Linked DNA regions of Homo sapiens: regions 1 and 2 are each linked to region 3. Evidence: fine-mapped expression QTL. A gene starts in region 3. Each other region holds a variant in brackets. All regions are shown on one strand. Distances are from middle to middle.

Region 1 (4,247 bases), 32 kb after region 3:
CCAGAGGTGCCCATAAGCACTGTTAAACACTCGGACTTCAGGTGGCAAGGAGAGGCGCACACCGTGTTTTTTAAGTTTTTGATGATGATTTCATGATTCTTTCTCATCTTGCTGCTATCAGTCAGGGCACTTGACTTTAGGAGGTCCCTGTTACCTATCAGCTGACAGCTGGAAATACGAATTTACTGAACTTGCTAGAATTATACGTAAAATTAACTAAATAAGGGTCTGAGTGAGACCCTGAATGACAGCTACGAGCAAAATACATGAGCTTTGTACATGCACTTAGGACAGTCCATTTCATCTACCAGGAGTCTTTATTTGCTTGCCTCCTGGTGCTCTCCTGGGTTTAGGACAACTCAAAAACTGGTAAATGATCAATAGGCAGTCCTCTAATTGGTAAGATTCATGGATAGCTAAGGATTCTGAAGATTGTTTATCTTACATAAAGTAACATAAAAACAATTTTGGAAAGACTCCTTACCATAAGAAAAGCTGTCCCCTTTGTTCTCCTGACAACAGCTGGAAGAGTCAAAGGTTACAAAGTCAGGGGACACTCAAGTTCTCTCTCTATTCTTGCCTCTACTAATTAATAAATTCATTTTGATACTGAAGCTAGATGGTAAACCCAAGAAATTCTTATGAAGTTGTTTACTGACACTGATAATACAGCCTTGAATGGGATACAGGGCAAGGTACCTCACCTCACAAACTGATAACTGAGTACAAAACTAGAACTAATCTAAAACCAAGAGAATCTTCTGCCTCCAGATGGAACATAATGGGTTTCAGCCAAATGAAGGTTCTGCTATAATAACTTAAAAAAAAAAAAAAAAAACCTTGAAAAAATCATGTTTGTAAAGTTTTGGGAGTAACAGGAATACATGAGCTAAAATTCAAAGTCATGAAGAGCCCTTTCTAGATCTAAAGCAAAAATTCATATAAGAATCTTAAAAGTGTGACCTCAGGAGTTTCAATGGATCACAAATGTTCCTAAAAATGATTAAACCTAATCAACTTACATTATGCACTAATAAACAGGCTTTTTTGGTAGAATATCTTATTAAAACTCTGAAAATAGGTAAATTTGGGGAAAAAAAAAACCCAGCTACTCTGATACAATACAAGCTTGGCGTTGACTAACATTTAATACGTCTCATTGTAAATCAACTGATTGGTGTTCTAGTGTATTCATTAGTATATATACAAAACACTTTGTTAAGCCAGTTTCAGTCCTCTAGAAACTAATCACTACTGAATACAAAGCTGAGAATCACAACCTGGAACGTGGTGATGAATCAGTCACACCATCTCAGGGGCTTCCTTCCACCTACTGGAGCTCCCAATCCATGTTGTTTCTCTTAAACCCTAACAAGGGCCTCCAAATGTCAGTGGAGAGTTGACGCATACGAACTCTGTTATACAAAATGGGTTTTTAAGAAAACCATATAAAATATACCAAACATCTACAAGTCTGTCTGACTTTAGGAAATAAAAAGAATACTGTACCCAATGACTTGATGTTTCCTTTGGAAACAGACCCATTTATAACCTTACCTCCAATTTTCCATTACAATCTCCTACTCAAGTCATATCCATGAAATTTAAAACACAATAGGGAAAATGGGAGATCTAGTATATAAAACAGCAATGAATGAGTCACGTATTCAAAGGCACAAAAATAAGAACACTATTTTACATGTGTATTTTATGTTCCAAAGCTTATTTCAAAACTGTTTGTGTTCATCCAAATAGTTGCGGGTCCACTTGTTTCTCAACCTCATAAGCTTGCAAGATCAGATCCAAAAAAGGGCTTCATAGTGTTCAATAAACACCTCTGAAACTAACCCAAAATGCATGTTTGTATCTCTCTGAAAACAGGAATCACAGCTTTCACTGGGTCCTCTAAGAGTCTAGGACTCATTAAATATAACAGATACAAGGCAAGGAAAAGGAATTACGACATCAGCAAAGAGATTGGGAAGAGCCACAGAGGGTGACCACAATTAATGTAATCTTCATTTCCTTGGTTCATCTCTGTTAACATTAATTTAAATAAATATTATGAGCTTGTTACGTTTGCCAGGTGACAGGACACTGACAAAATATAAACAAACACATGGTCCCCTCTCTCAAGGACCTTACTATTGAGCAAGGGGGACAAGTGAGCCATCTGGAGTGAGGCAGGCTTGGCACCGCCCCATCCAATTCCAAAGAGAAAGAGCAATCAGGGCATGCATTCTCCTAACTTCATCATCCTCCTTTTTTAGCCATCCACAGCCCCTCTTTTATTTTTACACCCAGCAAAATAGTATGCCTACTCTGTGCCTGGCTGCATTCCAGGTGCCGAGA[T/C]TTCGATATATCTACGAAGAGCGTCTCACTCTAAAAGGTCTTGTTTTCCGACTTACCAGATACAGTATTACAAAGGCTGAGAACTTGTAATGTTTTTTCTTAGGTTTCAGAGTTTAAAATAATTCTAAATTAAAATTTTAAAAATATTAAATTAGGCACTGTTTACACTACACTAGAAATACTTTCTTATTACAACCCTATATAAGGCTAATAGATCAACCTGATGACCACACATGCAACCTCCTAACATGCTGGGACAGGGACTCTCCAGGAACTGAGACCGGTCACTAACTAGTCCCACCTGGCCCATCTCAGTGAGCACAAGAGAGTGATCAAGCATAGCAGCCTGCATATAAACAAACAAACTGATTCTTTTTTTTTTTTTTTTTGAGACAAAGTCTCGCTTTGTCGCCCAGGCTGGAGTGCAGTGGCACGATCTCAGCTCACTGCAACCTCCACCTCCCAGGTTCAAGTCATTCTCCTGCCTCAGCCTCCTGAGTAGCTGGGAGTACATGCATGCGCTACCACGCCTGGCTAATTTTTGTATTTTTAGTAGAGATGGGGTTTCATCTGCTTGGCCAGGCTGGTCTCGAACTCTCCTGGCTTCATGTGATTCACCTGCCTCGGCCTCCCAAAGTGCTGCGATTAAAGGCATGAGCCACCACGCCGGACTCGATTCTTTAGTACATTCTAAAACGCTAAAACAACTTTTAACAGTTCAGTCTGTTCGGCAACATGCAATGCGAATAACACAATTCCAAATTTGTGTTAGAAAGTTTGCTCTAATGCTGATTTTTTTGTCTTGCAAACTTATCTTTCTTCTTCAACAGGCATACATTTCTTACCTCAAAAAGTTTAAAAAAAAAAAAAAGAAAATTTAATATTTTCAACTCCCTAAAGGTTTCCCATGTTATGACCTAAGGTGAATGTAAGTTGATTCAGCTTCCATATGTATTTTTGTACTAAAATAGCTACTGTTTTGAGTGGTTTGAAAAGCCCTTCTGAAGTTCTAAGAAACTAACCTGCTATCAAATAAACACCAAGACTTTCATTTTTTTTTATCTAACATTTTAAAAAAGAAAGAAAAATCCCTACTTTAGAAGTTAACCTATTCCCTAAATACAAATAACATAACATTCTGAAAGTTAAATACAACTAAAAACATGTGAGAAAACCACAGGAGCAAAGGTCCCAGGCCTGCCCTTCCTCCCCATTTTCCCACGGCAGCCAACATTTCAGAAATTCCCGAGGACAAATTTCCAAAGGGGACAAGGGTACCTCGGATACTCTTCCTCCCACATTGAGAAAGAGGCAGGAAAGGAAAATAAGGCCAGGATCTAATGTTAAGTGTCCCTCTGGGACCACAGCAGCAACACCATAGAAACATAAAGCATCCCATGACGTTTCCCAAAGCAGCAGCACTGAGACAGTGACATCTGATGGACTGAGGGCTAATTTTGTGTCTGGCGTTATGCTAAGTACTTTACATGTATTCATTCATCTAATCCCCTCAATAATCCTAAAGGCAGGAACTATGAACCCCATTTCACAAATGGAGGTAACAGAGCCCAGAGATGCAAGTCAAGTGGGGAAAGATAACAGGCAGTGCTGGGGCCCTACACCTCTGGAGAAGAAGCTGAGGCCTCACTGAGGGGTGACATGTGGGCAAGAAAATCAGGGGCAAGAGTGGCTAGGCAGAGGAGGGAGATGGATGGCCCTGAGGTAGGACCGGGCTTGGAGTGTGCCTAACAGCAAGGAGGCAGCGTGGCTGGAGCCGAAGGAGCAACCAGGAAGGTAGTGAGAGGAAAGTCTGGGAAGAAATGGAGATGCCAATCTTTTGGGCTGTGTTGGCCACAGTGAGGATGGTGGTTTTGATTCAGACTGAAATGGAAGGT
Region 2 (4,247 bases), 140 kb before region 3:
AAAAATATTCTCCCATTCTGTAGGTTGCGTGTTGACTCTGATGATAGTTTATTTTGCTGTGCAGAAGCTCTTTAGTTTAATTAGATCCCATTTGTCAATTTTGGCTTTTGTTGCCACTGCTTTTGGTGTTATACACATGAAGTCTTTGCCCATGCCTATGTCCTGAATGGTATTGGACAGGTTTTCTTCTAGGATTTTTCTGGTCCTAGGTCTTACGTTTAAGTCTTTGATCCATCTTGAGTTGATTTTTGTATAAGGTGTAAGGAAGGGGTCCAGTTTCAGTTTTCTTCATATGGCTAGCCAGTTTTCCCAACACCATTTATTAAACAGGGAATCTTTTCTCCACTGCTTGTGTGTGTCAGGTTTGTCAAAGATCAGATGGTGGTAGATGTGTGGTGTTATTTCTGAGGCCTCTGGTTTTTTCTGAGGTGTTCTGGTTTTTGGAATTTTCAGCCTTTCTGCTCGGTTTCTCCCCATCTTTGTGGTTTTATCTACCTTTGGTCTTTGAGGTTGGTGACCTCAGTTGGAAATGCAGAAATCACTCATCTTCTGCTTTGATCTCTCTGGGAGCTGTAGACCGGAGCTGTTCCTATTTGGCCATCTTCCAACCTTTATGTTTTAATTTATGGTTATCTTTTCACTTAAAAACGTAATAAATTATGTTGATAGTGTTGCTAATTTTAAGCTATCTCTGCATTCCTGAAATAAACCATGTTATATTATTATATTATATCATATTCTGTATATTTTTCTGTTAATTTGTTACTGGTGGTGAATCCATATGGGTTTGCAGCAACTTCAGTTCTTGCCTCTTCAGAAGGATTTGACCAAGGGGTAAGGCAGAAGGAGAGACCGAGGCAAGTTTTAGAGCAGGAGTTAAAGTTTACTAAAAAGCTTTAGAGTGGGAATGAAAGGAAGTACAGTACACTTGGTGGAAGAGGTCCAAGCAGGTGACTTGTGAGATGGAGTGTGCAGTTTGACCTTTGACTTAAGGGTTGTTTGTTGTTTTTTCTTGGAGATGGAGTTTTACTCTATCCCCCAGGCTGGAGTGCAATGGCGCAATCTTGGCTCACTGCAGCCCCCACCTCCCTGGTTCAAGCGATTCTCGTGCCGCAGCCTCCTTAGTAGCTGGGATTACAGGTGCCTGCCACTACGCCTGGCTAATTTTTGCATTTTTAGTAGAGATGGGGTTTCGCCATGTTGGCCAGGCTGGTCTCGAACTTCTGACCTCAAGTCATCTGCCTGCCTCAGCCTCCCAAAGTGCTGGGATTACAGGCATGAGGCCACTGTGTCTGGCCTGACTTAGGGTTTTGTATGTTGGCATACTTCCAGGGTCTTGGATTCCTTCTGATTCTTCGCTTGAGGTGAGATGTCCACATGCACAGCAGCCTACTAGTGCTTGGGAGATGAGCATGCACAGTGTGTTTACTGGAGTTGTACGCATGCTCACTTGAGGTCCTTACCAGTCAAATGTCCCTGGAAGGTCATATGCCATTTAAACCCCGCCCCCCTGCCATTCTGCCTCTTAATATGCATGCCTGAGCCCACTTGTCCAACTCCTGAGATCTTATCGGGAAGCTGCTGCTCACCAGTTTCAGGTGTTCTCTATCTATTAGGAGACTGCCTTTCCCTGGCACCGGCTGTGGCCAATTATTATTTTAGAAAGAGAGTCAGCAACCGCCTGACCATCACCTGATGGTCACCTGACATTCCAGGTGTGTGTGTGGGGGTGGTGCTGGGAGCACCCTTCTGCCCTCCTCATGCCTGACTAACTACCTACTGTAACAAATTCACTTCTGGGTTCTATTTGCCGGTACTTGATTTAGAATCTTTGCATCAATATTTGTAAGTGAAATTGGTTTCTGTTTTTCTTTGTCATACTTTGGTATTAAGTGTGTTCCGGCTTTTTAGAATGAATTAGGAGGAGCCTTCCATCTTTTTCTATGGTCTAGACCAGTTTGAGTACATAGCAAGTATCTGTTCTGTGATGATGCCTACTGC[T/C]CTATATTAATAAGGCTGTGGAGTATTACTGAGTTTTTAATCTTCACTATTATGATCTTAAAATATGACCTTGTTTTAAAAGGAGTCCTCTAAAATACTTTTCTTCCCCCTCTTCCAAGTTGCCAGGTTTTTGGTTATCTCATTGTTTTGCTTTTTATTTCACTTGTGTTTAGATAAAAAGTTTTTAAATTTCACATTTTTAGGCTGGAAACTTATTGCAACAGGAGGGAATATTTAGAGAGGAGAGGAACACACACACCATGCAAGACTTTTGTTGTGGCGTAGTTGGAGATCTGAGAAGGGGAAGGAAACTGGATTTATCAGAAAGAGGGAGGCCAGGGCTAAATGTCAAAGCCTGGCTGTAGCCCTGTCTCCTATAAGCTGAGTGACTTTACGTAAGCCTTCTCTGACTTCAGGCTGTTTTTCCATCATCCATGTATCACGTTGAGAACGGCCTGATGTAATTGCTGTGAGGATCAGAAGAAATAATATTCAAGGACTTCTGAACCCTTAAGGCATTATTTTGATGCAAAGGATACTGTTACAGGCTTATTCTTTTCCAGTGATTCGTTATAACAGAATACTTCTTCAGTGAAAGGAGATTTTTATTTGTAAATGTTTAGATAGTTGTTGATTTTTGTAAGATAGTTTTTTTTTTCTTAAATCAGGGCCTCTAATGGTCATGAGATAAAAAACAGGTTTTAAATTTTACCCCTTGTTTTTTTCACCAGGCAAAGAGACTGTTTTGTAGCAAACTAGTCTTCTAGCTCAAAGAAAAGAAAAGAGAAATATTTTTTTCTGCCATGCACTTTCAATACCAGTTAATTGAACTATATGTTCTGAGCACCTGAAATGAAATTATTGACGAATTCATTCTGTCTAACTGTGTAATCTCCTAGTCTTATTGTGAAAACTTGCTGCATCCTCTTGTGCCCCTTGTGTCTTCCTTCACTGGTCACCCTAAGGGCCAAGGGAGAGCTTTCCCCTTGGCCCTCTAAAGGTTCACTGAAAAATCAACTTGCAAAAGGCAGATTAATAGGAGAAAAGGCGGATTTATTTAACGTGTACATGGGAACTTTCAGAATGAAGATCCAACCCCTCAGTAAGGTACAGAAGCTTATATACCACCTTAAGGTTATAAAAATAATGCAGGCTCAGAGAGTGGCCAAAAACAGATTTTTTTTTAATTTTTATTTTTTATTATACTATTATACTTTAAGTTTTAGGGTACATGTGCACATTGTGCAGGTTAGTTACATATGTATACATGTGCCATGCTGGTGCACTGCACCCACTAACTCCTCATCTAGCATTAGGTATATCTCCCAATGCTATCCCTCCCCCCTCCCCCCACCCCACAACAGTCCCCAGAGTGTGATATTCCCCTTCCTGTGTCCAGGTGATCTCATTGTTCAATTCCCACCTATGCGTGAGAATATGCGGTGTTTGGTTTTTTGTTCTTGTGATAGTTTACTGAGAATGATGTTTTCCAATTTCATCCATGTCCCTACAAAGGACATGAACTCATCATTTTTTATGGCTGCATAGTATTCCATGGTGTATATGTGCCACATTTTCTTAATCCAGTCTATCATTGTTGGACATTTGGCTTGGTTCCAAGTCTTTGCTATTGTGAATAATGCCACAATAAACATATGTGTGCATGTGTCTTTATAGGAGCATGATTTATAGTCCTTTGGGTATATACCCAGTAATGGGATGGCTGGGTCAAATGGTATTTCCAGTTCTAGATCCCTGAGGAATCGCCACACCAACTTCCACAATGGTTGAACTAGTTTACAGTCCCACCAACAGTGTAAAAGTGTTCCTATTTCTCCACATCCTCTCCAGCACCTGTTGTTTCCTGACTTTTTAATGATTGCCATTCTAACTGGTGTGAGATGGTATCTCATTGTGGTTTTGATTTGCATTTCTCTGATGGCCAGTGATGATGAGCATTTTTTCATGTGTCTTTTGGCTGCATAAATGTCTTCTTTTGAGAAGTATCTGTTCATGTCCTTCGCCCACTTTTTGATGGGGTTGTTTGTTTTTTTCTTGTAAATTTGTTTGAGTTCATTGTAGATTCTGGATATTAGCCCTTTGTCAGATGAGTAGGTTGCGAAAATTTTCTCCCATTTTGTAGGTTGCCTGTTCACTCTGATGGTAGGTTCTTTTGCTGTGCAGAAGCTCTTTAGTTTAATTAGATCCCATTTGTCAATTTTGTCTTTTGTTGCCATTGCTTTTGG
Region 3 (4,247 bases):
AGCATAGGGCTGTCACCCCGAGAGAAGGGAGGCAAATGAGGTGAGCCCTGAGTTGAATGCCCCAGCTCACTGCCCAAAGGCAGTTGCCAGAACACAGAGAGGGAAAGCCCAAATAGTCTGGTTGAGTTGAGCAGGTAGTTTGAAGTTCAAGATCAATGTGCAGGGCAGAGAGGAGGGAGCTGCACAGATAGTGAGCAAGCTCCAAAAGAAAATCTGTGGTCTTTGGTTGAGTACTGATCAGTACTTATGAGAAAACTACCTGAGGCTGGAGAAAGAACCACTGGAAAGCAGCAGGCTGAACAATGCTCAGAACTTACCCAAGGCTGGTAATAGTTCATGTTCCTACCAGCCAGAGTAGAAAAGCCTCAATAGAGTCCCTAGAGAGGTATTGCCTCAGTAGTGGGCCAAATTAGCCCTAGACTGAAGACTGCTCAGGATCTGCCCTAACAGTTTAAAAGTGAGACATGAAGGATCCAATGATTTTAAATAACTGCAGTCCAAAATGAAATCCAATACTTCTCACACGAATACAAAAAATTCCAGCATTCAACAATGCAAAATTCAGTGTCCAGCATTGCAATAAAAATGAATCAAGAATTTTTATACCCAATGATAATATCTTTCATAAAGGAAAAGTAATTTTTCAAAACAAAAGCTGACAGAATGTAATGCCAGCAGATCTGCATTATATGAAATGTTAAAGAATGTTCTACAGGCAGAAGGAAAACCAAACTGTGGATCTACACAAAGAAATGAAGAGTGCTGCAAATGACAAATATGTAGCTAAAATACTCCCCCCCCCCCTGTTTAATCCCTTAAAAACTAGTTAAAACAATATTTATACATATACAAAAATAAAATGTATGACAACAGTAGTATAAGGAACAGGAAGAGGAAAATAGAGGCATACAGTTGTAAGGTTTTTATATTCTACATGAAGTGATATATTAAGATAGACTGTGATATAATAAAATACATGTATTGCAAATCTTATAGCACCCCCTGAAAAACAAGAGTTACAGCCAATAAGCCAATAGCGGAGATAAAATGGAGTAACAAAAGGTGCTCAGTTAAACCAAAACAAGGTAGCAAAAGAGGGAAAAAGAACAGACGAGACAAATAGAAAACTAGGTAGGTTTAAACTCAACCATATTGACAATTACACTAAATGTAATACATCTAAACCCTCAATCAAAGACAGACATTTGCTGATGGGATAAGAAAGCAAGCTCGAACTATATGATATCTGCAAAAAACAAACTTTAAACATAAAGACACAATAGGTTAACAGTAAAGAATGGAAAAAGATATATTCTCACAAGTCAAAAAAAAGCTGGAGTTACTGTATCACTATCACACAAAGTAGATTTCAGAACAAATAGTTTACCAGTCATAAAGAAGGAACATTTCATGAGGAAAGGGATCAATTCATTGATATGACGTAACAATCTTAAATGCTTATGTACCAAACAACAGAGCTTCAAATTTTCTAAAATAACACTGCTAGAACTAAAAGGAGAAATAGACAAATCCACAACTATAGTTGGAGATTTCAACACTCCTCTCTCAATAATTGAGACAGAAAATCAGTAAGAATATAGAAAACTTGAACATTATCAACCAACTTGAACGAACTGACATGTATAGGACACTCCACCAATAGCACTTTCCAAGCACTCAGGAAACATTCACCAAGATAGGTCGTATGTTGGGCCATAAAACAAGTTTCAGTAATTTCAAAAGATTTAAACTATAGAAAGCATGCACTGATAAAAATAGAATTAAACTAAAAATTATAGAAACCTATGTGGGAAAACCCCAAATATTTGGAAACTAAACACGTTTCAAAACATGGTATGATTTAGCCTTTAAAATGATCTCTCATACTGCTAAGTGGAAAATAAATGAGAAAGACAAGGGCAAATGCAGGGAAACCCTTTAAGAGGCATTTACAGTTGAGTGTCATGGACTAGAGTGGTAGTGGTGGTGGCAATGAGAAGGAGTCAACTGTGAAAGGCAAGTTAAGATTTGCTCATAAACTGAATGTTGGGATGAAAAAGTGGATGACACCAAGATTTTCAGCTTGAATGAAACTATTGAAGGCTAGGAGTTGATATTTATTAAGATGGGTGCGCTAGTAAAAGGATTTGAGGGGAAAGATTAGGGGTTTTGAACTTGTAAAAATTGAGATGCTGTAGACACACAGACACATCCAAGAAGAAAAGTCAAATAGATAGTTGAAATCCAGTGTTCCCAGGGTATGTGGGCTAAATATATTTTGGGCTTCTATCAGCATATAGATACTAGACTAACTGAGATCAGGAGTCACTGCAGATAGAGCAGGGGTCCAGAATTGAACATTGGGACATTCCAAATTTAGAGGTTGGAAGAATGAGGAAGGACCAGTGGACATGAAGAGCAGCAAGGCAGAAGTGAGATACTGAAAGATGGGAAGTTCATAAGGAAGAAAGTGAGCAATTCATCAAATTCTAACATGGGATTGAAAATTGATCACAGGAAGTGGTTGCATGAGGCTGGAGTAAAGGGAGTTGCGGACAAGGTAAAGTATGCCAAAGGGCACAAGATTTCTTTGGCGGGCGGGGGGGGGTTGTAAAAGTCAATTATGGTAATGGTTGTGAGAACTGAGTAAGAGTAGCTGACCTTGGAATCACAGTAACAGGAGGAAGGGCAGAGCATGTGAATGTGTATGAAGGAAGGGAGGAAGGCAGAGGTGGGAACTTGTGGCAGTTCTCATTGCTTCCCTTTATTCAATTAGGCAGCATGGTGACCAGCAGAGTGAGGAAAGGAGATGAAATAGAGAAATAAAGTAAGTATACTTAATGGGCACCCTGGCCCCACCTATGATTTGTAGCCATGAGTTTAAACATAATAATGACTGTACTTTTTCAGCCAAATCTGGTGGTGCAGGCACAGGGCATGGAGAAGGCTGGGTCTAACTGAGGTGGGATCACACAAAGCTACACTCATGAGAAGCAATACAACACAGGACACGGTTTATATTGCTGAACACCAATATGTCACTTTATTATTTGGATTTTTTTTCCCATTTGTCACATACCTGTCAATGTTTACACAATGAGGGAAATCAACCAGCATTGGAAGCAACTGACCAAATCAGTTGATAATTCTGTACCCTCTTAACACACATCAATTTTCACTTGGTAGGGATTATCTTTAATTCGGTCTCACAGCTATTCTTAAAATTGGTGTCAAGATTGTCACATCTTTAAATACAGATAGAATTGCCAGAAGTACATAATTATATATATATACACACATACAGAAAAATACAAGACTGTTTTTCCACAATATTTAATTTATACACTACTGTAACTATATGCAACTTTTGAAGACAGGTTAAGGGGTACAAGTAACTGTTTAGAGCAAGTAAGTAGTTTGGTCCAATATTATCTTAATGTAATGGTTTTTCGCTCCCTCCCTTTTATGTGACGACATACTATGACATACAAAACATGCACAATCATTCACTTATAAACAAAGGAGTAAGACACCACTCAGACTGACATTTGTATACCCCAAGGGTCAACCACACAACTAATAAGGCTATAATACAGCTATGCAGCATAAATGGTCAACACTGCTGATCCTAAAGTGAGCACCATATATACATCTGAATATAAAAAACCATTGAAACCAAACACATATGGGTTAGTTAAAAGGTGCCATTCCAAGGCTATACATAATCACAGGAAAAAGTATTTACACTGCTTGGAAAACAGCTGCAACAAAGAGTTTATTGCCAATGCCCTTTATAAACTTCTCTCCTATGTTTAATACAGATGTTACGCTCACTATCTATGTGAACCACACATCTTATTTCTGGCCCTTTATAAGATCCCTGCTCAAGAATTTCAAGCAAATATGTTCTATGGCTTCACCCACACATCTATTCTCATAGCTTTCAAATTATAAATATCACAATGAACTAGAGCTGTAGCTTAAAACATCTAGCCTAGGTCTAGAAAGTAAAATAAGTATTTTAAGTATCATTTTTACTTAGTTTAGTAAGTATACTGTGAAATTCAGAGTTCTGAGTAAAATATATTTATCCTAAAGTAGCAGAGTCAGTGTGTACTTGAAGAAACAGTGACCACAGCAATGCAGTTCTTTGGTGATGTGCCCACTCTCTGAATTACAGGACCAGATGCGTCTCAGTCCGTCACCTCAGACACATGACTCGGGGCTGAAGAGTGGGGAAGGGCCCT

What was found. PIP is the estimated chance that this variant, and not a neighbour inherited with it, causes the effect.
Region 1: its variant is the best candidate, but not a certain one, in a credible set for the expression of SNRK-AS1 in whole blood (TOPMed, PIP 0.74).
Region 2: its variant is the best candidate, but not a certain one, in a credible set for the expression of SNRK-AS1 in thyroid (GTEx, PIP 0.66).

The regions. Positions count from the first base shown.
Region 1 is chr3:43,317,522-43,321,768 of GRCh38, reverse strand. The region is part of intron 3 of SNRK (SNF related kinase); the gene reads right to left. Among named protein-coding and RNA genes, the nearest start is that of SNRK-AS1, 32 kb to the left of the region's middle. The variant T/C (reference allele first, on the strand shown) is at 2,353.
Region 2 is chr3:43,488,282-43,492,528 of GRCh38, reverse strand. The region is part of intron 11 of ANO10 (anoctamin 10); the gene reads left to right. Among named protein-coding and RNA genes, the nearest start is that of ANO10, 130 kb to the left of the region's middle. RefSeq lists an enhancer at 1,169-1,669. The variant T/C (reference allele first, on the strand shown) is at 2,002.
Region 3 is chr3:43,349,911-43,354,157 of GRCh38, reverse strand. It overlaps SNRK-AS1 (SNRK antisense RNA 1), which reads left to right and starts at 2,196. Exons shown (of 3, transcript NR_046757.1): 1 at 2,196-2,560; 2 at 2,777-2,827; 3 at 4,181-4,247. SNRK (SNF related kinase) reads right to left here. Exons shown (of 7, transcript NM_017719.5): 7 at 3,015-4,247.